7 linked regions of the Homo sapiens genome follow. The protein of the gene in region 5 purifies or fractionates together with the protein of the main gene of each other region. This does not show direct contact. Each region holds a gene or a part of one and is shown on either strand. Other genes may lie near its edges. The genes, in order: CYP51A1, NUCB2, PDIA6, ARPC4, LETM2, EIF3CL and AP2A2.

Region 1 (3,945 bases), on a different chromosome or scaffold from region 5:
CCCTGATGCTGGGTTATCCTGTAAGTAGCGATCAGGATTAAAGTCCAGGCGTTCTACCCATGAGTCTTTAAGTCTTTGATTGACAGTGGGAGAAACACACACCTGATGTCCTGGAGGAATGGTATACCCTGCCACAGTCTATAAACAAAAGCCACACATTTCATTAGAGAATTTAAAAATGTGCTGACAAATAATCAGATCATTGTGTAATAAAGCATGAATATACATGGGATACTCAGATGCTCCTTGACTTATGATAGGTTTACATCCTGATAAATCCATCATAAAGTCAAAAAATTATAAGTTGAATCACATAAATCAAGAACCATCTGTACATATATTTAAAAACTGGCTAGATAATAGGCAAACTAAAAATTATTTTAACTCAAGATGATTTCCAGTGAGCCAGCGTTGGGTTGGAAGTACACAGTACACAAATCAAACCCATAATGCCTTGGAGGTAGGGTTGGAATTTCAGAGAGGCTTTCACTATCAATTTGTACACTTCATATTAACAATTTTTTACAACAAAATGTTATTTTTAAAACCAAGAAAAATATGTACTTTGATTTTTAAAACCCCAATTGTTAAAGAAAAATGCAGAACATGATTAGCATTAAAGATTAGCATGTAGGCCGGGCGCGGGATTACACCTGTAATCCCAGCACTTTGGGAGGCCAAGGCGGGTGGATCACCTGAGGTCGGGAGTTCGAGATCAGCCTGACCAACATGGATAAACCCCATCTCTACTAAAATACAAAAAATTAGCCAGGCATGGTGGCATGCCCCTGTAATCCCAGCTACTTGGGAGGCTGAGGCAGAAGAATTGCTTGAACCCGGGAGGCGGAGGTTGCAGTGAGCTGAGATCGCACCACTGCACTCCAGCCTGGGCAACAAGAGTGAAATGCCGTCTCAAAAAAAAAAAAAACAGATTAGCACGTATACTATCTACAATTAGGTAAAAATATGTTTTTAGAGTATATAAAACTGAAGATTAGGTAGAAGTGATTATTCTACTTTTTTAATTTAAAAAAATCTCTTTTATGCTACTCTACTTCCTCTTTTCTTTTTCTTTCTTTTTTATTTTTATTTTTTTTGAGACAGGGTCTTGCTCTGTTGCCCAGGCAGCAATGCAGTGGCGTGATCATGGATTACTGCAGTTTCAACCTCCCAGGCTCAAGCAATCTACCCACATCAGCCTCCCAAGCAGCTGGGACCACAGGCATGTGCCATTATGGCCAGCTAATTTTTAGAAAAAATTTTGTAGAGATGAGGTCAGTCTCACTATGTTGCCCAGGCTGGTCTCAAATTCTGGCCTCAAGTGATCCTCCCACCTCAGCCTCCCAAAGTGTTGAGATTACAGGTGTGAACCACCACACCCACCTATTTCTTCTTTTTGATAAAAACTGGGGGTATAGAGGGGAAGATGTAGCCAAGATACTCACCTGAGGAGTTCTGGCCATTCTCATCATGATCATTATAGGAGGTCTAAGTCTTAATGTTTCTTTTATACAGCGATCAAGTAAATTTAGATCCTTGAGCTAAAATGAGAAAGCATTTCCTGATTGTTATAAATAACATACTTCAACAGTACAAAAAATTAGTTTAACTTCTTAGTTAGTACAAGACAGCTTGCATTCCAGCTAAAAGTACAGAGGTAACTGGTTCAGGGTGGCTGGGGTTATCATGCTCTACCACTGTCCATGGTGAAAAAGGAGGGCAAGGTAACAGAAGCGATTGCCCTGAAGAATGAAGTAAGAACCTACAAAAATTCACTCCTCCAAAAAATGAAAACAGTAGCAACAATCTTAATGTCAACTTTTTCAAAATTCTGGAAGATTAACCAAAGGCTTGCAACAATCTAAGGAGAGTTAATTCAAGAAAAAGAAATCTGAATCTTGGTAAGAAGAGTAAGCTTTGTGGTAGTGTAAGTTGTATTTCTTTCATCCTCCTCTCCCCAAATCCATGGTAGCCCCGGAAACCAACAGCATGACAACTATAGCAGCTGTGAAAGCCAGAAGCCTAACAACTATTAGAGGAGCCAGAGCAAATTTTCCAAAAATATTTAGCAAAAATTGTTTAACACTGAAGGCGCCTGAGATGGTGATATCAGTTGGTGCTAAGAGACAGAACAAGAAGTTTAAAAGGGAAAACTGGGGAGTAAGATGTCCACAGGAGACTTTGAAAAGTTCCAACATAAGAGAATCTTGAAGGCCACACATATGTATAAGACCATGCATATGCCCAGGTAAGATCTAAGAGGCTGTAATCTTTTACCTCTGGCTGACCTGTACACACAGGTAGTGAAGGCAGACTTGTAACTGCCTGTTGGAGTGTTAATAACATCCCCTAACACACACATACAGAGCCTTTCAGCAAAAGCTAGGAGACTGGCTGTTCAAAGCACTTCAGTAAATCTCTGTCCAAATATTAGATGCCCACTAAAGTAAGCAAGCAGAGATTTCAGTGACCTCACTGAACAAGGAATGACATAATTAATCCAGGAAACGCAGTAAACAAACAGCAGCAGCAACAACAACAACAACAAAGAGCCAGCAACAATAAACCCAGGGAGGAGGGCATCTGATTTCCACAGTTGCCACATTATTTTAAATGTACAGTTTTCAACAAAAAAATTACAAAAAACACACCAAAACAGGAAAGTATGGCCAGTACATAGAAAAAGCAAGCAGTTTAATAGAAACTATCCATGAAGAAGCCCAGACATTGGACTTACTAGATAATGAATTTAAATCAGCTATTATAAACAGGTTCAAAGAACTATAGCAAAATATGCCTAGATATCTCTAGTAAAATGGAGAATATCAATATATTATTTTTTTAGAGAACCAAATAGAAATTCAAGAACTGAGAAGTATGAGAACTGAAATGAAAAATTCACCCGAGGGGATCAACAGCAGATTTGGACTGGCAGAAGAAAGAATAACATCAAAAAAATAACAATAATAAAATACTTAAGAATACATTTAACAAGAGAAGTTTAAACATTGTGCACCAAAAACTATAAAACATTGTTGAAAGAAATTAAAGAACTAAAATAAGAGAAAGACATCTCATGTTCACAGATTTAAAGACTAAAATTGTGCTCCCAAATTAATATGGCGATACAATGCAATCATTGTCAAAAATCTCAGCTAGCTTCTTTGCAGAAACTGACACACTGACCCCAAAATTCATATGGAAACTAAAGGGACTAGGAGTAGATAAACAGCCTTGAAAAGGACAAAGTCAGAGGACTCACACTCCCGAATTCAAAACTTATTACAAAACTACGTAATGGCATCAGACTAAACATATCAATGGAATAGAACTGAGTCCAGAAATAAAGCCTTAAATTTATGGTCAAGAGGCTTTTTAAAATGTATTTATTTTTTCAGAGACAGGGTTTCGCTATGTTGCCCAGGCTGGACCCCAAGTCCTGAGCTCAAGCGACCTTCCCATCTCAGCTTCTCAGTAGCTGAGAATACAGGCACGTGCCACTGCGCCTGGCTATAATAGATTTTTTTACAAAGACAATTCAACGTGGAAAAAATAGTCTTTTCAACAAACAGTGTGGGACAACTGGATAAACACATGCAAAAGAATGATGACCTCACATCATATACATAAATTAATTCATAATGGATCAAAGACCTAAATGTAAGATATGAAACTACAAAACACTAAGAAGAATACACAGAAATAAATCTTCATACACTTTGATTAGGCATTAGTTTCTCTGACACCAAAAGCACATTAAAAAAAAATAGATGAACTCTTACAACTCAATAATAAAAAGACAACTCATTTTAAATATGGGAACAGGATGTGAGCAGACATTTCTCCAAAGAAGTATACCAAAGCCAAAGAACACATCATAAGACACTCAACATCACTAGTCACCAGGGAAATGCAAAATCAAAACAAAATACCAACTGGGCATGG
Region 2 (3,945 bases), on a different chromosome or scaffold from region 5:
TAGGTTTACAGATTTTCATGAATGAGAAAATATACAAATATCCATATAGAAGAAAGAGATGAGTGATAAGGACAGGCAATAGGAAGAAGGAGAACTAACCTACTTTTCTTCCACTATCAGGTCAGTAAGAATGGCCTTCTCCTTTCCTTTATCACCCTCTTCTTTCATAAGAGAGATACGGACCTAAAGAGGAGACACTGGGCTGAACCAGGCTGAAACAGTAGACTCATCCAAACCAGGACAGGCTGATAATTTACTCTCTAAAGTAGGATGGTGTGAAATTCTAAATTATGTAGTCATCTCAAGACAGAATGGGAGGCACTGACCCCAAAGGCATCAGAGCCTCTGGTAAAATTACAAAGTAAGCAGAGTTCTTAAGCTTCTCTTAGTATTCAGTAGATATAATTTCCTTAAATTTTAAAGTCCTAAAAGAAAGCTAATCTCTCTTCCCCTGTCTCAACCAAGTCAAAATTTCTATTCTGCTGGGCACGGAGGTTCCTGCCTATAATCCCAGCACTTTGTGAGGACAAGGAGGGTGGATTCCTTGAGCCCAGGAGTTCAAGACCAGCCTGAGCAATATGGTGAAACCTCTGTCTCTACAAAAAATACAAAAATTAGTTGGGCATGGTGGCACATGCCTGTAGTCCCAGCTACTTGGTGGGGGATGAGGTGGGAAGATCACCTGAGCCCAGCAGGTTGAGGCTGCAGTGAGCCATGGTCACGCCACAGCACTCTAGCCAGGGTGACAGAGTGAGAACATGTCTCAAAAAATAAAATTTCCATTCATACACAGAGGCAGATTTCTTAGCTACTGATTTATACCCATAGTTATACAGATTAAGTTTGCTTTGTGTGTGTGTGTGTGTGTGTGTGTGTGTGTGTACGCACACGTGCGCGCATGTATGTGTGATGGTTTCCTGTTTTGATTGTTGGGCAAGATATCCTGGAAGTGGTTAAAAAAAATTACCATAGATAACCAGGGTGAAAAGTACAGAAAACTGAAAATTTTCTCTTTCCTTGGAAGTAGTCTCTGTTCCTCCTTTATATATCTTTTTTTTTTTTTTTTTTTTTTTGAGACGGAGTCTCACTCTGTCACCCAGGCTGGAGTGCAGTGGCGCGATCTTGGCTCACTGCAAACTCCGCCTCCCGGGTTCACACCATTCTCCTGCCTCAGCCTCCTGAGTAGCTGGGACTACAGGTGCCCGCCACCACGCCCAGCTAATTTTTTTTTTTTTTTTTTGAGACAGTGTCTCGCTCTGTTGCACAGGCTGGAGTGCAGTAGTGCAATCTCAGCTCACTGCAACCTCCGCCTCCTGGGTTTAAGCAATTCTCCTGCCTCAGCCTCCTAAGTAGCTGGGACTACAGGCGCATGCCACCATGCCTGGCTAATTTTTTGTGTTTTTTTTAGTAAAGACAGGGTTTCACCATGTTGTCCAGGCTGGTCTCGATCTCTTGACCTCGTGATCCGCCCGCCTCGGCCTCCCAAAGTGCTGGGATTATAGGCGTGAGCCACCTCACCCAGCCACGCCCGGCTAATTTTTTTGTATGTTTTTAGTAGAGACGGGGTTTCACCATGTTAGCCAGGATGGTCTTGATCTCCTGACCTTGTGATCTGCCCGCCTTGGCCTCCCAAAGTGCTGGGATTACAGGCATGAGCCACCGCGCCCAGCCTCTTTTATGTATCTTTTTCCATCTTCCTCAACCCTCTTCTTTTGCCCCTCTTCCTTTTCAATTAATGGCTGAATTGAAGCATGTTTCCTTTAACCTATTATAAGTATGTATGTATGTATGTATGTATGTATTGAGACTTTGTTTCTAAAAACAAAACTAAACTAATATTTATGTATTAAGTAATGACTATGGTACCAGATACTATGCTAGAAGACAAAGGTAAGCGAGATCGACATAGTCCTTACCCTCACAGGGCTTCAATCTAGTGAGGAAGGTAAGCTATTAAATACAATTGCAATTTTTAAAATGCTGCTTACAAAACAATGCATAGCATGATACTTTTCTGTTAATTAAAAAAAATTAAAAGTCATGAAAATGGTATTCACCAAACAGACATTCTCAGTCAGGTGATTTATAACGTTAAATGTCTCTTAAAAACTGGGTTGTTTTTATGGTCACAAGTCTCCTGATTATTTTGTTTGAGGTCAACAAGTCTAGATCAGAAAAAAGGAAACTGCAATACTAGCAGCAAAAGAACTACTGTACTTTGTGCCTATCTAATACAACCAAAAAATGTAAAAACTTTCAAAAATACAAATATACTGTGTAGAAATAAAATCTTAACTTACTGTCTCCCTTCTAAAAACTCTAAAAGATTGACTGAATCTTTAGAATCTTTCTCACTCCAATTTCCATTCCCTGAATTTCTTTTTCTCAAAGCTATTTATTTCAGTTTACTTTTGAAATAGAAATAATGACAATTGAACCATTTTGCAGGACAAGTATAGGGTATATTTATATAATATTCACAAAGAAAAGTCTGGAAGGGGCTGGGCACGGTGGCTCACTCCTGTAATCCCATCACTGTAGGGGGCTGAGGCAGGCAGATCACCTGAGGTCAGGAGTTCAAGACCACCCTGGCCAACATGGTGAGACCCCATCTCTACTAAAAATACAAAAATTAGTTGGGTGTGGTGGTGGATGCCTGTAGTCCCAGCTACTGAGGAGGCTGAGGCAGGAGAATCGCTTGAACATAGGAGGCAGAGGTTGCACTAAGCCATTGCACTCCAGCGTGGGTGAAAGAGTGAGACTCCGTCTCAACAAAAAAAATAAAAGTCTGGAAGGAAATAAAATATTGGTGTGGCTAAATAAGTTAAGCAAGAACTAGTAGTAAGAGAAAATTTCAAGACAACTAACAGTTAAGTGGTTAAAAAAAGAAGAAAGGAAAGAAAAAGAACAAACTACTTTTAGCTAGCAAGGAAGGCAAGTGTTCCTCATGTGACCATAGTGAAATGTATCTTGAGATGAATTATATTTACTTTCAATATAAATTTACTTCCTGATGATTAGTTATGTGATACCCTTGGGATAACTTATCTCTGTCATTTTAGTGCCTTGATTATAGCAAGTAGCTCAATAAATGTTAGCTCTTTTTAACACAACCATAAAATGTACAACAAACATCTATTGAGCATTTATGGGTAATTTTAAAAAATAACCAGAACAAATCCACAAATAAGACAGAAAAGCTTCTATAATGAATTAAGGGCTAAAAGTAAAAACAGAAACACAATTTATTACATGAAGATTATTTCCTTCTGTAGTTAATAGTCAGACTTATATCTCTGCCATGGCAAATTATAGAAGCTTCTATGAGTGGTTATCACAGCTTACAGATTTCAGAGCTGAAAGATAAAAAGATTCATATCATGGCAGACACTTCTATTTGCTTGCCAATATCCAAATCTTTCCTTCCTTCTCAGTAACAAAAGCCCAATTTTATAGAGGGCAGACATGCAGTCAGCTACATTTCCCTGCTTTCTTATAGCCTCAGCCTTGGTTCAGGAATTCTCCTTAAAGGAAGAGGATGCATCTTTCTTCGCCTATGCTTTGCTGCCTGGAACATGACAGTGATGGTTAGAGCTCTGGCAGCTATCTTGGACATACAAGAACCAGTACTACAAGAATGTCTTAGGGATCACTGATAAAAGAACTGAAAGAAGCTTAAGTCTCTGATGACTTTATAAAGCCACTATACCCATCCTAGAGTGCTATTTCAATTATTATTTTATATAAAAAATAAATATTGCATGTTTAAGCCATCTGTGAGTTCGTTTTTGGTTTTTCCTTTTTTGTATTTTGGTGGTGGTGGTAGTGATAGTCATGTTTCTTTGCAACCAAATGCAATTATTGAGTACTTACGTTCAGGCAGGTAAATAATTTTTATCTCCTTTTTACAGATGAGACAACTGAGATCCAGAGAGGTAAGATGAC
Region 3 (3,945 bases), on a different chromosome or scaffold from region 5:
GGTCAGGAGTTTTGAGACCAGCCTAGACAACATGGTGAAACCCTGACCCTACTAAAAATACAAAAATTAGCTGGGTGTGGTGGCGGGCGCCTATAATCCCAGCTACTTGGGAGGCTGAGGCAGGAGGGAAAAAAAAAAAAAACATATAGCAGAGCAAACATAGAACACAGCTTACAAAAACACGGGGGAACCACTCTCAAGAAAGCCTATAATCAGCTGTTCAGATGACACTCAGACAGTAAGCTCAGTAACTTACCCCCACATTTTCTTTTTGTATTTGTCTGCCAACTTCAGAAGAACTTCCAGATAAGAATTTCTGCCTGCAGCTCCTGATTTAAATAGACAAAGTTTTTTAAAGGTAAAGATAAAGGAGTCCATAAAATTAATCCATTTAGAAAGTATTCTCAGAGCATCTAGCATAGAACAGCTAAGGGAAATCATTTCCGTCTGTCTTACCAGTATCAAGGATATGGGGCAGCACAGCCACAACACAGAGCTGGTGCTCCTCACACGTCCTCTTGGCAATGTCCTCGTTGATAATCTGTGGGACCCAAAAGACAAGGGACAATCAGGAGGCTGCATGATACAACACCTAAAGGTAAGCTGGCAAACAAGACCTTCGCACCGTCACTTTCATTGAAAACATTTCTCCCACGACTACTTCCTCGTATGGAAACACCTGGAGGCATGTTCTCTAAGAGGAGATTTTTCTGCTACTGATTCTTAAGCCTGTGGAAGCTGTGGTGGTGGAGGTGGGGTGATTAGCACACATACAAACATCTCTGAAATCGCAATGCCTGGACACAGCCTGGCTCTGCCACTTACTTGTTTAAATAGATTATACTTACATGTATTATATGTCTTATATGTTTATACACACTTGAGGCTCTGTGCCTCAATTTCCCCATATATAAAATGGAGATTAAAAACAGTATCTACCTCTCAGTGTTCATGTGAGAATTAAATGAAAACAAAACAAAACAAAACAAAACTATACAAAGACACCAGAACGGTGCCTGTTACATGATTAGTACTTGATAAATGTTCTATTACTTTGAGAATGATAAGCAAGAGTGATTGAATACACTCTATCTTTAAGAAGCTCGTATTTCTGTTCAGTGTAATTATTCTAATGCTAAAAGTTATGAAAAGCAATTTATCAGACTTTTTTTCCATTTCAAAGTATAGAAACCACTTTAAAGAGAGTATCTTTAAGGGCATAAAATGAACAGTGTGTCACACTGCTTTAACATTCCTCACCATCAGCTAAAAAAGCTTTCTGGACTACAAGCAGTTGAAGTGGTTTACCTCAAGCAGCTCAGGAGGTGGGGCGTTATCAGAAAACAAATCAAGGGCCCGGGACACGATGTCGGATCTTGTCCGCCCACCGTCATAATCCACAGGAGACTCGCCTTTCTGAAATATCTTGATTGTAGGAAATCCTCTAATCTATTAAAAAAAGGTCAGAGGATAAAATCCAATTAACACTTAATGCAAAATAACACAATCTTTACAGTTTCTAAAACCACCTTATAGGTAATTTTTTTTTTTTTTTTTTGAAGCAGTCTCACTCTGTTGCCCAGGCTGGAGAGCACAGGTGCAATCTCAGCTCACTGCAACCTCTGCCTCCTGGGTTCAAGCAATTCTCCTACTTCAGCCTCCTGAGTAGCTGGGACTGCAGGCACACACCACCACACCCGGCTAATATTTGTATTTTTAATAGAGACGGGGTTTCACCATGTTGGCCAGGCTGGTTTTGAAATCCTGGCCTCAAGTGATCCTTGGCCTCCCAAAGTGTTGGGATTACAGGTGTGAGCCACCACTCTGGCCTTATAGGTAATTTAATGTAACAAAACTGTTCTCCAGACTGCACAGATTTCAAAGGAATGACTCACAGAGGTCAATTATCAATCAGGGAGTTTTAACAGTCTGTGAAGTTTAGCCAATCATATTCAAGCCCTGGTATATAATTAACACAAAGTACCTGCCCTAGAACAAATGGACCAACTCACAACAGCCATATGAGCAACTTGAATAAGTCTGGGCAAGCTGAAACCTCACATTAAGTATATACCAGAAGCAGTGTGACATTAGGGGGAAAAGTTGACAGTCCTGAGTTTCAGACTTGTTAGTTATGACAATAAAGTGACTTTATCTCTTCACTTACAAAATGGTTTAAACATCTCCTTTACTACCTCATAGGGAGGCCTGGAGTATTGGAAGAAGTAACGAAACACCATGTATTTCACAATGAAATGAGCCTTATAAGTATACTCACCCCGTATCGGGAGGCCAGAACCTGATTGACTGTAGCATCCACAGCTGCCAGTTTCACTTTTCCTTTCGTCTGCTCTTTTACTTCTGAAGCTGCGGCAGCCCACTCTGGCTCTAGGCTATAGAAAAATATTCGTTTTGTTTTGTTTCTTTGAGACACAGTCTCTCTCTGTTGCCCAGGCTGGAGTGCAGTGGTGCAATCATGGCTCCCTGCAGCCTCAATCTCCTGGGCTCAGGTGATCTCATTTCAGCCTCCAACATAGCTGGGACTACAGGTGTGTGCCACCACCCACTGTTAATTTCTACATTTTTAGTAGAGATAGGGTTTCCCCATGTTGCCCAGGCTGGTCTCAAACTCCTGGCCTCAAGTGATCCACCTCACCAGGCCAAATACTTGCATTTTAACTTGCAGCCCAAACACCTTTCTTTTCTTTTCTTTTTTTTTTTAAGACAGAGTCTCCTTCTATTATCCAGGATGGAGCGCAGTGGTGTGAGCTTGGCTCACTGTAGCCTCTGCCTCCCACAATCAAGAGATTCTTGCACCTCAACCTCCCAAGTAGCTGGGACTACAGGCACACGCCACCACACCCAGCCAATTTTTTTGTATTTTTAGTAGACATGGGGTTTTGCTATGTTGCCCAGGCTGGTCTCAAAGTCCTGACCTCAAGTGATCCGCCTGCCTCGGCCTCCCAAAGAGCTAGGATTACAGGTGTGAGCCACCATGCCTAGCCTATACTTTTTAACTGATCTGTGCATTTCTGCCCAATCCCCAATTATGTCACACCTAGAAAACATTTTGTGTGTGGCTTTACTAAAGATACAATGCTACCCTTCACATGAGCTTCCCATTCCACCACTGCCCCTAAATCCAGACATGAGCCAGTCCCTTGTTAATCTTTGGCAATAGGAGAGTGGAAGCTCTTGGCGCTAATGTCAATGTTTAATATTCACTTAGAGTCAGAGTTTTGCTGGAAGAGATCTTAGTGGTGATCTATTATCTACTTCAGCTCTTTCAAAATAAGCTAATGAATGTACTGAAAACACTGTGAATGAACAGACTACTTAGTAGAAGGCACTTACTTTTTGCAGTGTCCACACCAAGGAGCATAGAACTCAACCATCCAAACATCTTCACTGTCCAGAACATTCTTATCAAAGCTGTCGTCTGTCAGCTCAATCACATCCTTCTTACTTGAACTATCACTTCTGCCCTGTCATTTATGACATTAAACATCAAACAATTGGGCCAAGAAGAACACTTTTCCTGTTTTAAATAATAACACTACTGCTACATCTTAACAAAGTTTTAGGGTTTTTCTTTAGTGAATAAAATAGTGAAAACGGTTGTATTCAAATTGGGTACATTCCTCAGCACTGTAATTTTTGCTTGGCAAATAGTCTTTTACTTTCAAGTAATTATCAATACATTCAGTACAACACATAACCTGTACCTGAATGCTGTCACCAGCTATTTTTAGAGAGAAACCTCAACATGGCTCAAAAAACCACCTGAACAACACTGTTCTAATTCAGACTCAAGTACAGCTGCTGCTTCATCCTAGGATGTTATGTTACATCTTTCATAGACAAAGTCCCTACCAGTCAACAGAGCTAAAAATAACACTTAATCCTTTTCTTTTTTCGAAGAATGTTCTTCAGTACTAAATCTAA
Region 4 (3,945 bases), on a different chromosome or scaffold from region 5:
CAGTGGGCCGGGCGCGGTGGCTCACGCCTGTAATCCCAACACTTTGGGAGGCCGAGGTGGGCGGATCACAAGGTCAGGAGATCAAGACCATCCTGGCTAACACAGTGAAACCCCGTCTCTACTAAAAATACAAAAAATTAGCCGGGAATGGTGGCGGGCACCTGTAGTCCCAGCTACTCGGGAGGCTGAGGCAGAAGAATGGCGTGAACCCAGGAGGCGGAGCTTGCAGTGAGCCCAGATTGCAGACTATGATTCACTTTGGGAGGCCGAGGCAGGCGGATCACCTGAGGTCAGGAGTTTGAGACCGCCTAGCCAACACAATGAAACTACTAAAAATACAAAATTAGCTGGGCATGGTAGCACATGCGTGCCTATAATCCCAGCTACTCGGGAGGCTGAGGCAGGAGAATCACTTGACCTGGGAGGTGGAAGGTTGCAGTCAGTGAGACTGCGCCACTGCACTCCAGCCTGGGCAACAAAAGCAAAACTCCATCTCAAAAAAAGAAAAAAAAAGGCCAGGCGCGGTGGCTCAAGCCTGTAATCCCAGCACTTTGGGAGGCCGAGGCAGGCAGATCACGAGGTCAGGAGATCGAGACCATCCTGGCTAACATGGTGAAACCCCGTCTCTACTAAAAATACAAAAAATTAGCCAGGTGTGGTGGTGGGCGCCTGTAGTCCCAGCTACTCAGGAGGCTGAGGCAGGAGAATGGCGTGAACCCGGGAGGCGGAGCTTGCAGTGAGCCAAGATTGTGCCACTGCACTCCAGCCTGGGCGACAGAGCGAGACTCCGTCTCAAAGAAAAAAAAAAAGAGAGAGAGACTATGATTCATTTGGCAGATCTTAGAAAGGATTTCTAATTCACTGTGCTCTTTCTGATGCTAGACTATAGGCTCCGGGAATAAGCAATGTGTCTTATCTTTTTTGCCTTTTTTTTTTTTTTTTTTTTTTTTGAGACGGAGTCTTGCTCTGTCGCCCAGGCTGCAGTACAGTGGCACGATCTTGGCTCACTACAACCTCCGCCTCCCAGGTTCAACCAGTTCTCTGCCTCAGCCTCCTGAGTAGCTAGGATTACAGGCGCCCACCACCATGCCCAGCTAATTTTTGTATTTTTAATAGAGATGGGGTTTCACCATGTTGGCCAGGCTGGTCTTGAACTCCTGACCTCATGATCCACCCACCTCGGCCTCCCAAAGTGTTGGGATTAGAGGCATGAGCCACCACGCCCGGCTCTTTTTTGCCTTTTCTATGGCTGAGGTAGACCCAACTTTTCCTAAGCTTCTAATCCTCTTTGCTCCCACTCCAAGATGAAGGCCAACTCTCAATTCAGGCAGTGGGTGCCAAACAGCTGGAGTAGCTGGTTCTAGAAACAATCCCAGGCCATTCTGTAACAGGGTCCTGGGTATCGCAAACTCATGGGTCACAGGGTCTCACCTCCACAGGCTTCCTTCGAAGGATAAAGAAGTTCTCTGCTCGCATCATCATGAAGCGCATGAACTTGTGGCACAAAATCTTCTCGATCTCATCAGCCTGGGGAGTGCAAGAGAGAAATGTTTCTCTAAAGCTGACACCCAAGGCCAAAAACACCTTGTAGCCTGGTCTTCTGACTCCAGTTTTTTCAAGGCTCCCAGGAGACAGTGAGGTTTGGTACTCGGAAGGATCACTGAAGTGGGGGACCTGGCTGTCAACTGAAACAAGGGTCTACCTTGGGGCATCTCTTAATGACGACCCATTCCAGAGAGGTAATTCTGACAGGCTTCTATTGCTTCTTTCAGAGTCTACAGCTGTACTCCAAGCTGCCCTTTCCATTCTCATTTCACTAGTGTCACATTTCCCAGGGTGTTTTGCAGCATCACCTGGGCTATCAGAGATAACCTTAGGTGGTCTCTGCTTTAATAACACTGAACATCCAACAATCCCTGAAGTTTCTCCCTTCTGAATGCTCAACATTTCTTTTTTTTTTTTTTTTTTTTTTTTTCTGAGATGGAATCTCGCTCTGTCACCCAGGCTGGAGTGCAGTGGTACGATTTTGACTCACTGTAAGCTCTGCCTCCCGGGTTCAAGCGATTCTCCTGCCTCAGCCTCCCAAGTAGCTGGGATTACAGGCGCGTGCCACCACGCCTGGCTAATTTCTGTATTTTTAGTAGAGACAGGGTTTTACCATGTTGGCCAGGCTGGTCTTGAACTCCTGACATCAAGTGATCCACCCGCCTTGGTCTCCCAAAGTGCTGGGATTACAGGCATGAGCCACTGTGCCTGGCCCTGAACTCTCAACATTTCTAAAGGAAGATTATTGCTGCTGGTTGCTAGCATGCCCTTAACACCTCTCAACACTTGTTAACCTCCCATTTTAGCAAGGAAAGCAGGCCCCAGGTTTATAAGTTTCTGTAGAAAACAGTGTGTAGTCTGCATTTAATAACAGTGCTTCGTTTTCATCCTGTTGAAAGTTTAGAGTTGCCCTCTACTGGCCAGGCATGGTGGCTCATGACTGTAATCCCAGTACTTTGGGAGGTTGAGGCGGGCCCATCACCTGCGGTCAGGAGATGGAGACCATCCTGGCAAACATGGTGAAACTCTGTCTCTACTAAAAATACAAAAATTAACTGGGCGTGGTGGCGGATGCCTGTAATCCCAGCTACTTGGGAGACTGAGACAGAAGAACTGCTTGAACCCGGGAGGCAGAGGTTGCAGTGAGCTGAGATCATGCTGCTGCACTCCAGCCTGGGCGACAAGAGTGAGAATCCGTGTCAAAAAAAAAGGAAGCAGAGGCTAGGTTTCCTGCACTCTGAATCTGGAATCTGGCACACTGATCTCTCAGATGGGGACCCCGGACTGAAAGAGGCTGAAAGGACTGAAAGAGGCCTTACGTTGGGCCTCCTCCATGGTGAACTTACCTGTTTCACAGCAATGCTGACCCGGACAGAGTTGATGGAGCCCTCAATCAGAACCTTTTCCTTCTCATTCCTGCTGATGGTCACAGGTTGTAACAGGAGCTCTTTGCTACTCCTGAAAACATAATGTGACAGAGTACTTGTACTACAGAGGGATAGAATAGTCAGAGTGACCCCACGCAGGTCCTGGAATCACTATGAGACCATAGAGTCCAAGGAATAGAAGACTCACAAGCAGGAGTGCTCCAAGATGGGGGCCAGTGAGTGTGTTCTTCAGCAGAAAGAGCACAGGCTCTGAAGTCAGGGCGAAAAGGTTTTGAAATCCAGCCTCCTCTGTTACTTTCCTTGGGCAAGTTACCCTGTTGGAATCTCAATTTTCTCATCTGTAAAATGACTCTGATTCCTAATTCACTGGCGAGGACTGAGAGAGATCAAAAAGGGTCAAATGTCTAATAGCGTGCCTGGCACATAGTAGGAGCTTTACAAAAGATAGCTATTTTAGTAACTACAAGTTGAACATCCCCAATCTGCAAATCTGAAATCCAAAATCTGAAACTGGCTGGGCACAGTGGCTCATGCCTGTAATCCCAGCACTTTGAGAGGCTGAGGCTGGTGGATCACCTGAGGTCAGGAGTTCGAGACCAGCCTGGCCAACATGGTGATATCCCATTTGTACTAAAAATATAAAAATTAGCTGGGCATGGTGGCGCACTCCTATAATCCCAGATACTCAGGAGGCTGAAGCACGAGAATTGCTCGAACTCAGGAGGTGGCAGTTGCAGTGAGCCAAGATCATACCACTGTACTCCAGCCTGGGTGACAGAATCAAACTCCATCTCAAAAAAAAAAAAAAACCTGAAAGTTTCCGAGTGCTGACAAGATGCTCAAAGGAGATCCTCATTGGAGCATTTTGGATTTGGAATTAGGGATGCTCAACTGGTTAAGTATCTGCAAATATTCCACAATCTGAAATACTTTTGGTCCCAAGCATTTTGGATAAGAGATACTCAACCTGTACAGGCAAACCAATATACCATTTAGGAATACAGAGAGAACA
Region 5 (3,945 bases):
GATTTATGTCTGTGATCCATTTTATTTTTTTATTTATTTATTTTTTTTTTTTTGAGATGGAGCCTCGCTCTGTCGCCCAGGCTGGAGTGCAATGGTGCGATCTCGGCTCCCTGCAACCTCCACCTCCCAGGTTCAAGCGAGTCTCCTGCTTCAGCCTCCCAAGTAGCTGGGATTACAGACATGTGCCACTACACCCAGCTAATTTTTGTATTTTTAGTAGAGCCAGGATTTTGCCATGTTGGCCAGGCTGGTCTCGAACTCCTGACCTCAGGTGATCTGCCCACCTCAGTCTCCCAAAGTGCTGGGATAACAGACGTGAGCCACTGCGCCAGGCCGAGTTAATTTTTATGAAAACTGTAATGTCAGTATATAGATTCATTTCTCTCTTTTTTGTATGTGGATATCTAGCTTTTCCAGGACCATTTGTTGAAAAGATTTTCTCTTCTCCACTAAATTCTAACTTGATTTTAACTGTCAAAAGAACAAAGAGAACAGGCTGGATGCAGTGGCTCATCTCTGTAATCCCAGCATTTTGGGAGGCTGAGGTGGGAGGATTGTTTAAGCCCACGAGTTCAAGACCAGCCAGAGCAATATAGTGAGACCCCTGTCTCTAAAAAACAAAAATTTTAAACAAATTAGCCAAGTGTGGTAGCATGCACCTGAATTCCCAGCTACTTGGGAGGCTGAAGCGGGAGGATTGCTTGAGCCCAGGAGGTTGAGGCTGCAGTGAACTGAGATCAGGCCACTGCACTGCACTCCAGCCTGGGCAAGAGTGAGATCCTGTTTAAAAAAAAAAAGAATAAAGAAAACAGAAATCCACTGTTACCGCGGTGACTAGTGGAACAGTAGGTATGATTTAGTCAGCCCAACAGACAGTTCAGCAGCCCCTGAGAAGAGGGAGCCTTCACTGAGTGTGGCAGTCACTGTGCCGGTGAGAAAACAGAGGCAGCTCCTTCCTTCTCCCCGTTCTGTGCCACTCTACTAGACAGCGTTGACAGCATATGGTAAGAAAGTGTGAACAAAACATTATGAGAAGACAAAAAGTGCAACTTTTTTTTTTTTTTTTGAGACGGAGTCTCGCACCATCACCCGGGCTGGAGTGCAGTGGCACAATCTTGGCTCACTGCAACCTCCGCCTCCCGGATGCAAGCAATTCTCCGGCCTCAGCCTCCTGAGTCGCTGAGATTACAGGCGCCTGCCACCACACCCAGCTAATTTTAAGGGCAACTTTTAAATCAGTAAGATTGGAAACTTTTTCACAGAAAAGGTAACTTTGGAACTGAGACTTAAAGAGTAAGTGGCATTTTACCATGGTCTGGGAAAGGTATTCTGGATAAAAGGAATAGCATTTAACATGGCTCAGTGGCATAAGAGAGTATGATGTAATCAGAGACCACTGGTTGGTTATTTGTGGTTGAAGTAGGCAGTTCCAGGGCATCAATGACAGGAAACAGACAAAGTGATGTGTTGGGGTCAGGTTGGAAGGCATCCACCCACTTAAGGAATTTAGGCTTTCCCTTTCACCATGGTGAATAATGGAAAGGGAACGTTTGAAGCAGGGTAGCTGGGTGGATGACATGATTAGATCTATGTTTTGGAGGAATAATTTTGCTGGCAGGAGGGGCAGCAGAGGGTAGAGCCAAGGAAGGGAAACCAGCTGGAATGCTAGCCCAAGAGAGAGATGACAGAGAATACATTATGAAATTGACAATAAGAATAAAGACTTGAAGGCCGGGCGTGGTGGCTCATGCCTGTAATCCCAGCACTTTGGGAGGCCGAGGTGGGTGGGTCACTTGAGGTCAGGAGCTCAGTACGAGCCTGGCCAACATGGTGAAACCCCATCTCTACTAAAAATACAAAAATTAGCCTGGCATGGTGGCACGTGCCTGTAGTCCCAGCTACTTCAGAGGCTGAGGCAGAAGAATCACTTAAACCTGGGACGCAGAGGTTACCAAGAGCCAAGATCATGCTACTGTATTCCAGCCTGGGCGACAGAGTGAGATTTTTGTCTTAAAAAAAAAAAAAAAGAGACTTGAAGACAAATTCGGGATACCTTCACAGGATAAATCAAATTACAATATTTGACTGCCTGGCAATGTTTTAATTTGCTTACATTTAAAATAATCAGCATCTAGAATTAATGCCATAACATTCCAAGGAAAGTATTAGTGAATTCAGGAAGATGGGGGGAATAGAGGAAGTGATTTATTTAAATGTTACCTCTTTCCTGAACACCACTCATTCCCTGAAACATACAAATATGTCTACATCATGGCCACAGTCTCAGAAAATTCTTGTTTGCTTTGTTCCATGGAGAGAGGAGCTTTCTGTTTACATCAGATCACAGCACCATGTATTTCTCTTTCATAGCACTTACCCATTATGCTTCTATATTAATGTGAGGAATTGTGGGATTATCATTAGTCACTAAAGTTTGTCTCTCCCACTACACTAAAAGTTCCATGAGGGCAGGAATTCTTACCTGTTGTTGCTCATTTTATCCCCAGTACCTAATATGGTAGATGTGCAATAAATAAATGGATAGATGGATGGAAGGATATGGATGAATGAAATGGATGACTAAGTGGGTTCTTTTTTTTTTTTTTTTTTTTGAGACAGAGTCTCGTGCTGTTGCCCAGGCTGGAGTGCAGTAGCGTTATCTCGGCTAACTGCATCCTCCCCCCAGGTTCAAGCAATTCTCCTGCCTCAGCCTGCTGAGTAGCTGGAATTACAGGCATGTGCCACCACGCCCGGCTAATTTTTGTATTTTTAGTAGAGACAGGGTTTCACCGTGACAGGCCAGGCTGGTCCCAAACTCCTGATCTCAGGTGATCCAGCTGCCTCGGCCTCCCAAAGTGCTGGGATTACAGGTGTGAGCCACCTCATCCGGCCACTAAGTGGGTTCTGATCATACTATTGTGTGATTTTTTTTTTTTTGGCTGTATCTTTTAAGATCTATCTAAATATCAGTGATTCTTATGATTGGCTGATCATTAGAATCTCCTAGGCAACTTAAAAATATACGTAGATTCCTGTTCTTCTTTACCACCCTGAGTCCTGACTGTGGTTATTTTGAAAATGCTACCATACTACATTTCTGATGATTAACAAGGATTAAGAAACACCAGCCAACACAGTGTCCATTTACTTTTCTTCTGTGTAGTGCTGTGTTCATGTCTGTTAGAGCACTTAACTCACTGTATTGTAATTACTTATGTCTGTTTTCTAGTTAAACTGTAAGCCACATTAGGTAGAGTCCATTTCCTAGTTTTCTTTGTTTGTAAAGAAAAACCCAGGGCCACTCAAGGAGTTAGCTCAACTGGCAGACTGGATAGTTTGCACCAGGTTGAGATCGTATCTCATTCTTGTCTGGGCGCTGTGGCTCAAGCCTGTAATCCCAGCATTTTGGGAGGCCGAGACAGGCAGATCACTTGAGGTCAGGAGTTCAAGACCAGCCTGGCCAACATGGTGAAAACCCCTACTCTACTAAAAATAAAAAATCAGCGGGGTGTGGTGGCGTGTACCTGTAATCCCAGCTATTCGAGAGGCTGAGGCAGGAGAATCACTTGAACCCGGGAGAGAGAGGTTGCAGTGAGTCAAGATGGTACCTCTGCACTCCAGCCTGGGTGACAGAGCGAAACTCCATCTCAAAAAAAAAAAAAAAAAAATTAGCCAGGTGTGGTGGCACACACCTGTAATCCCAGCTATTCAGGAGGCTGAGGCAGGAGAATCACTTGAGTCTGGGAGGTGGAGGTTGCGGTGAGCCGAGATCGTGCCACTGCACCCCAGCCTGGGCAACAGAGTGGGACTTGATCTCAAAAAGAGAGAGAGAGAGAGAGAGAGAGAGAGATAGTATCTCGTGCTAAATAATTATAAAGCCTCCCATTGGGGGAACATTTTGGATCTATCAAATGCTTATGATTATTGTATTAGTGAGAAAGAAAA
Region 6 (4,674 bases), on a different chromosome or scaffold from region 5:
TTCATCCGCAGACTGCTCGGGGTTCTGGACAGAGAGGGAAGTGAGAGAACAATCATGGACGCTGTCCAGCCATCAGCCCACCCCACCCCTCCACCCCAGACAGTTCTGTCATCTTCCTGCTCCAGTCACACCTCCCACTAGCAATTCCATCTTTGGGCCTCAGTCACGGGGTCACTGTTCCCAGTTCAGTAAGTGTGCCTCTAGCCTCCCCACCTGCTTGTAGCTTGTGATATGGGACTCGAAATCACGGTTGTATTTTCGGATCTTCTGACGCAAGGTGCTCAGAGCCTTGGCATTGTTCTTGTTCATCTTCTTCTTCCCTTCCTTATCTTCCCAAAGCTAAAGGGAAGAAGAGGAAAGAAACAGAGAACAGTGATTTGAAACTAAGTAACATTTCCTAAACTCCAGGCTTCTTCTCCACTTTTGAGTCTTGCTATTGGAACACCACTGGTACTACTTATTAACTACATCTGTTAGCTTATTTTTAAAAGATCCTATACATCCCACCACTAAAAGTACAAAACCATGAATAAGTGGTGGTAATAAATATAGGCATCACACCTCATTAAGATAGTCCTCTAGGTCAGCCAGGATGCGGATATAGAACCGGGGGACACCTTCTTTGTCCACAATGCTTTTGGCCTTCCCATATGCTTTTCCCAGGAGCTCAAACTCTTCCAGGCACTTGGTGACATCACGAATCTTCATGGCATTACGGATGGTCCGGATAAGGTTGGTCAGCTCCTCAAACCTGGGTTGGGAGCCCGATACCACATTGAACGTGCCCACCGAGGGAAAACTCACCACTGCTCCCAGAGACTCCTATCACCCAGCCTCCCCACAGCTTCATTGCTCCCAGAGACTCCCATCACCCAGCCTCGCCATGGCTTTACCTCTTGTCCTTGGCACTGCGGACAACTCTCTTGGTATCTTCTTCATCCTCGCTCAGCAACAATGGCCTGTTTGGAAGGAACAGAGGCCATTAACCTCCTTTCCCAGTCTTTCCAAGAGATCCGTATTTCCCTACTCAGGACAGGTAGAACTAAGTAATCCAGGCCATCCACACCACACCCATCCTCTTTTTGACTCCTCCTCAGGGCCACTTCATATACAACTCAATCTTTTAAGTGTACACTAAGTAAGGCCTTTTGCTCAGTGTTGTAGCAACACAAAGATGACATTCACTATCCTCTCAAAAACAAATGAAAGTGCTAATTTACTGTGTAACTAATGACATAGAGACACAAGTCACCACAGAAGTAATGAATAAAAAAAGAGGTAGAGAAAAATGATACTTGAGCTATAATGAACAGAAAAGGCTTTAGGGAGGTGGTACCTAAACTAGATCTTAGCAACATTTCCCAAAGTATGAGAGGCCAACAGCAAGGAGAAAGTCTCAATGGTATTAACACCTCCACTGCTAGTATTTTTCTACGATAATAAGACCAGACCACAGGCTCACAGTCAGCAACAGTATCTCTACTCTTTTTGTTTGTTAAGAGATAAGGTCTCACTATGTTGCCCAGGCAGCCTCCAACTCCTGAGTTTCAAGGGATCCTCCCACCTCAGCCTCCAGAGTAGTTGGGACTACAGGCATGCACCATCTTGCCTGCCTCTTTTCCCTTTTTATTATTTTTTGGATTATTTTAGCGGTGTTTTTTGAGGTGGAGTTTTGCTTTTATCGCCCAGGCTGCAGTGCAATGGCGCAATCTCGGCTCACTACAACCTCCGCCTCCAAGGTTCAAGAGATTCTCCTGCCTCAGCCTCCTAAGTTGCTGGGGTTACAGGCATGTGCCACCACAACCGGCTAATTTTTGTATTTTTAGTAGAGACGGGGTTTCACCTTATTGGCCATGCTGGTCTCAAACTCCTGACCTCAAGTAATCAGCCTCCCAAAGTGCTGGGATTACCGGCTTGAGCCACCTGCCCAGCCTGGATTATTTGGTATTTTATGGCAAATGACACTGGTTTCCACCTGTGGAAGTGATACGAAACCATATGCATATTGGCATATACATGTGCAATACATACTTTTAAAACAGTAGCACAAACGTGGCAGATGTTTAAGAAACACCATTCCAGTGGGGCACAGTGGCTCATTCCTGTAACCCCAACACTTTAGAATGCTGGGCGGGAGGTTCACTTGAGCCCAGGAGTTCAGAACCAGTCTAAGCAACACAGTGAGACACCTTCTCTACAAAAAATTAAAAACAATTAGCCTGCTGCGATGGCGTGCACCTGTAGTCCCATCTACTTGAGAGGCTGAGGTGGGAGGATCGCTTGAGATCTGAAGGTCGAGGCAGCAGTGAGCTATGACCCCTCAAAAAAAGAAAAAAAAAAGGAAAAAGAAAAACCATTCTATTGTTCCAAAGGGTAAAAAAAAAAAAATTAATGTACAGAAATGGCGGATGGGTATTTACGTAGAGGTGAACAGGCATATAAAATGTTTAAGCACCTGCGTACACAGCAGGTGACCAGACTTCAGAGTCGCATCAGGGGGCTCCCAGATACCAATCAAGCATTTTGCATTTCCTTCTGTGAGCAGTGAGAAGTCACTAAGGACTTCTCGGCGGTAAAATGAGAGGAGACAGGTAGAGGCTGTAGACTTAAGGCCAGTTAAGAAGCTGATGCAACAGATCTGGCTTGGGAAACCTCTGTGATTCTATCCCTTGTGCCTGGTGGGTGGCTACCGGCTATCACAGCCCTCTAAGGCTGTCTCTCTCCAACACCGCTCCGATCCTGCAAACTCTGGTCATTGTCCAAACCCACTCTCCCCGCCCTCACCTCCATCCCCTCCCATGTGCACTGCGTTCCACAGCCTGCCTAACCCCGCACTCCCAGAATGGTCACAGCCACAGCCCCCGCAACTCACTGTTTGCCATAGTTGCCTCCGACAGGTTTGGTGACGAGCTCCTCCCCGGACAAGGACGACTCGGACTCGCTGTCCGAACCGGTGGTGAAAAACCGCGACATGGCGACGGCGCGGAGGTGCTACGGCCGGACCTGCGGGGGAGCCAAGGCGTCACCGGCCACGCGAAGAGGCCCGAGCCAACACCTCCCGACGCCCAACCCCTCACCGGCCCCACCCGGACCTCGACCTGGGTCTCCCACCACGAAGCACGAGGCCCAAAAAATACCAACCAGCTGAGCCCGCGAGTCACACCGCAGGGCCCTGACAGCGGAAACGCCGAGAGAGAAGGCGGGTCCTCGCGTCACTTCCGGGAAGCGCCGACTAACTACACTGGGAGACTACAACTCCCAGTGGCCTTCGCGCCATAAGGGGGCGGGGACAAGCCTGAGGGAACCGGGCGCTGAGACCTTGGCTGCAGGCGTCGCGAATCCTACCGCGCGTTGGTGTCGGGATTTAAAACACGAAGATCGGCGGGGCGCAGTGGCTCACGCGTGTAATTACAGCATTAATAGGCATTAATAGTATAGAAGTAGATAATCCTGCCGGGTGCGGTGGCTCACTCACGCCTGTAATCCTAGCACTTTGGGAGACCGAGGCAGGCGGATTACCCGAGGTCGGGAGTTCGAGACCAGCCTGACCAATATGGAGAAACCCCATCTCTACTAAAAATACAAAATTAGCCAGGCGTGGTGGTGCATGCCTGTAAGCCAAGCTACTCGGGAGGCTGAGGCAGGAGAATCGCTTGAACCCGGGAGGCGGAGGTTGTGGTGAGCCGAGATCGAGCCACTGGACTCCAGCCTGGACAACAAAAGCGAAACTCCATCTCAAAAAAAAAAAAGTAGACAATGCTAGCCAGGCACAGTGGCTCACTCCTGTAATTCCAACACTCTGGGAGGCTGAGGTGGGTGGATCACCTGAGGTCAGGAGTTCGAGACCAGCCTGGCCAATATGGCAAAACCCCGTGTCTACTAAAAAATACGAAAATTAGCCTGGCACAGTGTCACCTGCCTGTAATCCCAGCTACGTGGGAGGCTGAGGCTGGAGAATCACTTGAACCCAGGAGGAAGAGATTGCAGTGAGCAGAGATCACACCACTGCATTCCAGCCTGGGTGACAGAGCAAGACTCTGTCTCAAAAAAAAAAAAAAAAAAAAAAAAAGTAGACGATGCTAGATCTTGCAGGTCTTTATAGGCCTGTGGTTTGGAGCCGCCATCGGCAGAGGTTTTAGTGCAAGGGACTGTGTTACATTTTTCAAGGTGGTTTTGATATGGGAGCGGGACAGGGAAGTGCTGGGAAGGGAAGAGCATGCTCTTCCAAAGTGCTGGGATTATAGGCATGAGCTACCACACCTGGCCGTTTTGTTTTTTATTGTGAAATATTTCAACAGACAAGAATAAAGACTATTCCAATGGACATCTATGTACTCACAACCCACCCAGCACCGTCAAAACTTAATATGAGGCTGGGCATGGTGGTTCATGCCTGTAATCCCAACACTTTGGGAGGCAGAGGTGGGCAGATCACTTGAGGTCAGGAATTCGAGACCAGCCTGGCCAACATGGTGAAACCCCATCTCTACTAAAAATACAAAAATTCGCCTGGCATAGTGGCAGATGCCTGTAATTCCAGCTACTCAGGAGGCTGAGGCAGGAGAATTGCTTGAACCCTGAAGGTGGAGGTTGCAGTGAGCCAAGATCGTGCCACTGCACTCCAGCCTGAGCGACAGAGCAAGACTCTGTCTCCAAAAAAAAAAAGTTAAAAAA
Region 7 (3,945 bases), on a different chromosome or scaffold from region 5:
GGAGTCCTTGATGGCCTGCACCAGGCAGTGCGCTCAGTCCTAGCGAAGCTGGCCCTTGTGGAGGGCAAGGGAGGCATGGACGAGCGGGCAGAATCCAGGCAGTGCGCTGGGTCCTAGCGAAGCTGGCCTGTGCGGGAGGGCCGGGCCAGCAGGCGGAACTCTATTCCGGGCTGTCCAGACACACGTGGCCCGAGTGCAGGTCGGCTCCCTGGACCTGGATGTGCATGTGAGGGAAACTCAGAGTGGGTGTTGAGATGCGGGTGCCGAGCCTGTCCCCAGCCTGTCCCCAAGCTTGTGCCTTGCTCCTGCGACCTCTTACTCTGTGCCTTGTTCCCCAGACTGAGCGGGACGTGAGCGTGCGGCAGCGGGCCGTGGACCTCCTCTACGCCATGTGCGACCGCAGCAACGCCCCACAGATCGTGGCCGAGATGCTGAGCTATCTGGAGACAGCTGACTACTCCATCCGAGAAGAGATTGTGAGTTCTGGTGGCCTCTGAGTCCTCTCCTGCCACAGGCGTGAATCTCAGCGGCAGGATTTCCTTCGTGCTCTGCGATTCCGTCCAGCAGGACTTGATTGAGAACCCATGAGATGCTGAATACAAGGCTCCTCTGCCTCTGTGTTTTCATCCACATTTTCAAGCTGGGTGTGGTGGCACCTGTGGTCCCCGCTACTCCTGAGGTGGAGGCGGGAGGATCACCTGAGGCCAGGAGGTTGAGGCTGCAGTGAGTCGAGATCATGTCACTGCACTCTAGCCTGGGCAACACAGCGAGACCCTGTCTTAAAAAAAAATCAGCATTTTTGGTAGAGTCGTTTGGTCTTGAAAATAACTATTGGCCGGGTGTGGTGGCTCACGCCTGTACACCTTGGGAGGCCAAGGCGGGCGGATCACCTGAGGTCAGGAGTTCAAGACCAGCCTGACAAACATGGGGAAACCCTGACCCCGTCTCTACTGAAAATACAAAATTAGCCGGGCGTAGTGGCGCATGCCTGTAATGCCAGCTACTCCGGAGGCTGAGGCAGGAGAATCGCTTGAACCCGGGAGGCGGAGGCGGAGGTTGTGGTGAGCCGAGATTGCGCCATTGCACTCCAGCCTGAGCAACAAGAGCGAAACTCTGTCTCAAAAAAAAAAAAACTAAAATGCCCGTCCTGCGCGGCTTCTGTGGCCTGCCTGTCCTTGCAGTGGTGGCACTGTAGCCCCAGGTCTGAGTGAGGCTCCAGCCGTCTGCGCTGGGGCTGCACAAATCCAGACTCCTGTGGGCAAAATTCTTTTAATTGTGTTGCATTTTGAGCCCTTGAATTAATCCTTTGTGGCTTGGCTTTTTTGGGTGTCCCTCTTGATCTCTGGGAAGGACGGGATCTAGGCCATAGCTTAATGTCCCGTGTTGTTTTTATTCACAAAGTAGGTGTGCACACTTGCCAGATAGCTGAAGCTCATCAAACCTGTACGTGTGAAAGACTGAGCATGAACCAAAACCTGAGGGAAGAAACCCTTGTGGAGGCCACATGGTCAGCAGAGAAGAGGGCCTGAGGCCTCCACCACACTCACAGGCCTCTCAGGCTCACCGTGTCTGTGGATGGTGGGGTTTAAGGGGGAGGCCCGGTGTCCTCGCGTGGGGTTCGCCACTGTGACCAGCCAGGACCACAGCCTCTTGTTGAGGCTGAGACAGCGCCTCCGTTGTATAGAAAGCGCTTTGTTATTTGTTTTTTTTGGGCGAAGTGCGGCTCAAGGCCTCCTTGGGAGCTTTGCCGAGAGCCAGTGTTGGAGCTAGTGGCAGGTGACAGGGTTGCTCTGGGCAGGTGTTGTGTGGTCATGCCCAGGTGAGAGACTCGGGTTTTCAGGGGTCTTTTAGTGAACGGAGGAGCCCAGGTGCTGGGGCTTCAATGCTGAGGGGTGAAATTACCATGGACTGAGCTTCAGTGAGGCACTGCAGACCTGCAGAGAGCAGGGGCCAGGAGGCGGCTCTCACGCTGGACTGTCCACCCTCCAGGACAGTGGGCCTGGGAAGTTGAGGGGGACAGGGACGGGGTGGGCTGACTCCCGGCAGGAGGCCCCAAGGGCAGGCACCGTGGTGTAGGGCAGGGCTGTCTGTAGAGGGGCCAGGCAGGTGCTCGTTGACTGTAGCCAGTGGTCCCTCTCTGGCCTGGCTGGGGCAGTGTGGCCTGGTGTCAGCACTTGTGGTGGGGTGGGGCTGGCTCTGGGGACGGCCGTCACGGGAGCCTCGTTCCTGATTGTTGTTCTGGGTGTTTTGAACAGAGACAGAAGCAGTGTGCTTCTGAGTGCAGTTGTGCAGATTTTGAGGTCCTGGGCATTCGTCAGCCCGGTGTCTGCTCTCGCCCCTCTGCGTGATGAGCGGCAATCCTCAGCCAGCTCCTGCTGTGAGGAGTAAGACAGGTGCTGTGTCTTGGCCTGCATGATGCTCCCCCCAGCCCGTCCTTTCAGCCGGACATGATGCTCCCCTCACCCCATCCTTTCAGCTGGGCATGGTGCTCCCCCACCCCATCCTTTCAGCTGGGCATGGTGCTCCCCCCACCCCATCCTTTCAGCCGGGCAGGGTGCTCCCCCCACCCCGTCCTTTCATCTGGGCATGGTGCTCCCCTCACCCCATCCTTTCAGCTGGGCATGGTGCTCCCCCCACCCCATCCTTTCAGCTGGGCATGGTGCTCCCCCCACCCCATCCTTTCAGCTGGGCATGGTGCTCCCCCCACCCCATCCTTTCAGTCGGGTATGGTGCTCCCCCCACCCCATCCTTTCAGTCGGGTATGGTGCTCCCCTCCGTCCTTTTAGCCGGGCATGGTGCTCCCCTCCATCCTTTCAGCCGGGCACGATGCTCCCCCCACCCCGTCCTTTCAGCCGGGTATGGTGCTCCCCTCCGTCCTTTCAGCCGGGTATGGTGCTCCCCTCTGTCCTTTCAGCCGGGTATGGTGCTCCCCTCCATCCTTTCAGCCGGGCATGGTGTTTCCCTCTGTCCTTTCAGTCGAGCATGGCAGGGCGTGTTCTCTGGCTGTGCTAGGTGCTAAGTGTCCAAACTGGACATGGCCCACTCCCTGCCTACTCGGCACCTTGCCATCCATGGAGGGGGACGGATTGAGAGCAGGACCGTGGGTTGCTGTGCTGTGGGTGGGATGGCTGGAGGAAGTGCCTCATGTTCTGGGGGCCTCAGGAGGCATTACACTCCTGGGGGGCTGTGTGGACTTCTGCAGAAGGTGATAGTGGCCTGGTCTGGAGAGGATGATGGTGCAGAGGCTACTGGGAGGGCAGAGCATCCGTTCGTGGAGGGGTGGGAGGTACCTTAGCACAGGCTGGGGAGCAGGGCACGCGAGGCAGGGGTGGAAGCAGACATGGGGACCCTGCCAGTGAGGCCTGAGGGCCCCTGGTGCACAGCCGTGAGCTGCGGGTAGGGCTCAGAGGCAGTACATTTTGGAATGATGCCCTGGAAGTGTCACGGAGTCAGGTTGGGGTTTGGGGGTCCAGGCTCCAGGCAGGGACTTGGGGTGGGGGGGCACAGTCACCAGCACCTGAGAGGCCAGTGGCAGGGTGTGGAGAGGGGGCGGCAGGGTGTGGGGAGGGGCGGCAGGGTATTAGGGGTGCCCTCGGGAGGTGCGCGGTCTTGATGCCTGCTGGCGTTGGTGTTGGCAGCTGGCGCTGTTCGAAGGGGGCTTGGTTCCAGGCGAGGTGACTTTGGGGAGATGAGTTTGGTGTTGTACAGCCTGGCAGAGCTCCATGTGGGTGGCTGCCACGTGGGTGTGGGCTGGGCAGGTGCCTCCGGGGGGCACCCGTGAGAGTGAGCCAGAGAGGGGAAGAAGGGGAACCCCCAGGTGAGGCTCGCAGGAAAGACTGGCCAGAGCCGGAAGAAACCAGCAGAGAAGTGGCCGCCGGGAGCCCAGGGTGGCGCAGTCACTGGCCGCCGGGAGCCCAGGGTGGCGCAGTCAGAGGTCAGAGGAGT

The links.
Region 1: the proteins of LETM2 (region 5) and CYP51A1 purify together in Homo sapiens (affinity purification with mass spectrometry; one large-scale study listed by BioGRID and IntAct). This does not show direct contact.
Region 2: the proteins of LETM2 (region 5) and NUCB2 purify together in Homo sapiens (affinity purification with mass spectrometry; one large-scale study listed by BioGRID and IntAct). This does not show direct contact.
Region 3: the proteins of LETM2 (region 5) and PDIA6 purify together in Homo sapiens (affinity purification with mass spectrometry; one large-scale study listed by BioGRID and IntAct). This does not show direct contact.
Region 4: the proteins of LETM2 (region 5) and ARPC4 purify together in Homo sapiens (affinity purification with mass spectrometry; one large-scale study listed by BioGRID and IntAct). This does not show direct contact.
Region 6: the proteins of LETM2 (region 5) and EIF3CL purify together in Homo sapiens (affinity purification with mass spectrometry; one large-scale study listed by BioGRID and IntAct). This does not show direct contact.
Region 7: the proteins of LETM2 (region 5) and AP2A2 purify together in Homo sapiens (affinity purification with mass spectrometry; one large-scale study listed by BioGRID and IntAct). This does not show direct contact.

Annotation. Positions count from the first base shown.
Region 1 is NC_000007.14:92,117,075-92,121,019, forward strand, and holds part of CYP51A1 (lanosterol 14-alpha demethylase), read right to left. Parts: intron 1,542-3,945; coding exon 1,446-1,541; intron 139-1,445; coding exon 1-138. UniProt on the Homo sapiens protein: Sterol 14alpha-demethylase that plays a critical role in the cholesterol biosynthesis pathway, being cholesterol the major sterol component in mammalian membranes as well as a precursor for bile acid and steroid hormone synthesis.
Region 2 is NC_000011.10:17,282,872-17,286,816, reverse strand, and holds part of NUCB2 (nucleobindin-2 isoform 1 preproprotein), read right to left. Parts: 5' UTR 3,874-3,945; intron 184-3,873; exon of another isoform or gene 100-183; intron 1-99. UniProt on the Homo sapiens protein: Calcium-binding protein which may have a role in calcium homeostasis. Acts as a non-receptor guanine nucleotide exchange factor which binds to and activates guanine nucleotide-binding protein (G-protein) alpha subunit GNAI3.
Region 3 is NC_000002.12:10,788,441-10,792,385, forward strand, and holds part of PDIA6 (protein disulfide-isomerase A6 isoform d precursor), read right to left. Parts: intron 3,486-3,945; coding exon 3,355-3,485; intron 2,394-3,354; coding exon 2,279-2,393; intron 1,450-2,278; coding exon 1,309-1,449; intron 542-1,308; coding exon 457-541; intron 330-456; coding exon 257-329; intron 1-256. UniProt on the Homo sapiens protein: May function as a chaperone that inhibits aggregation of misfolded proteins. Negatively regulates the unfolded protein response (UPR) through binding to UPR sensors such as ERN1, which in turn inactivates ERN1 signaling.
Region 4 is NC_000003.12:9,799,243-9,803,187, reverse strand, and holds part of ARPC4 (actin-related protein 2/3 complex subunit 4), read right to left. Parts: intron 3,004-3,945; coding exon 2,892-3,003; intron 1,528-2,891; coding exon 1,432-1,527; intron 1-1,431. Other genes in the region: ARPC4-TTLL3 fusion protein, read right to left, coding at 1,432-1,527, 2,892-3,003. UniProt on the Homo sapiens protein: Actin-binding component of the Arp2/3 complex, a multiprotein complex that mediates actin polymerization upon stimulation by nucleation-promoting factor (NPF).
Region 5 is NC_000008.11:38,396,129-38,400,073, forward strand, and holds part of LETM2 (LETM1 domain-containing protein LETM2, mitochondrial), read left to right. Parts: intron 1-787; exon of another isoform or gene 788-1,001; coding exon of another isoform or gene 1,002-1,004; intron 1,005-3,945.
Region 6 is NC_000016.10:28,400,646-28,405,319, forward strand, and holds the start of EIF3CL (eukaryotic translation initiation factor 3 subunit C-like protein), read right to left. Parts: upstream 3,197-4,674; 5' UTR 3,142-3,196; exon of another isoform or gene 3,093-3,141; intron 3,004-3,092; 5' UTR 2,974-3,003; coding exon 2,873-2,973; intron 960-2,872; coding exon 894-959; intron 752-893; coding exon 562-751; intron 340-561; coding exon 214-339; intron 25-213; coding exon 1-24. UniProt on the Homo sapiens protein: Component of the eukaryotic translation initiation factor 3 (eIF-3) complex, which is required for several steps in the initiation of protein synthesis.
Region 7 is NC_000011.10:988,214-992,158, forward strand, and holds part of AP2A2 (AP-2 complex subunit alpha-2), read left to right. Parts: intron 1-338; coding exon 339-476; intron 477-3,945. UniProt on the Homo sapiens protein: Component of the adaptor protein complex 2 (AP-2). Adaptor protein complexes function in protein transport via transport vesicles in different membrane traffic pathways.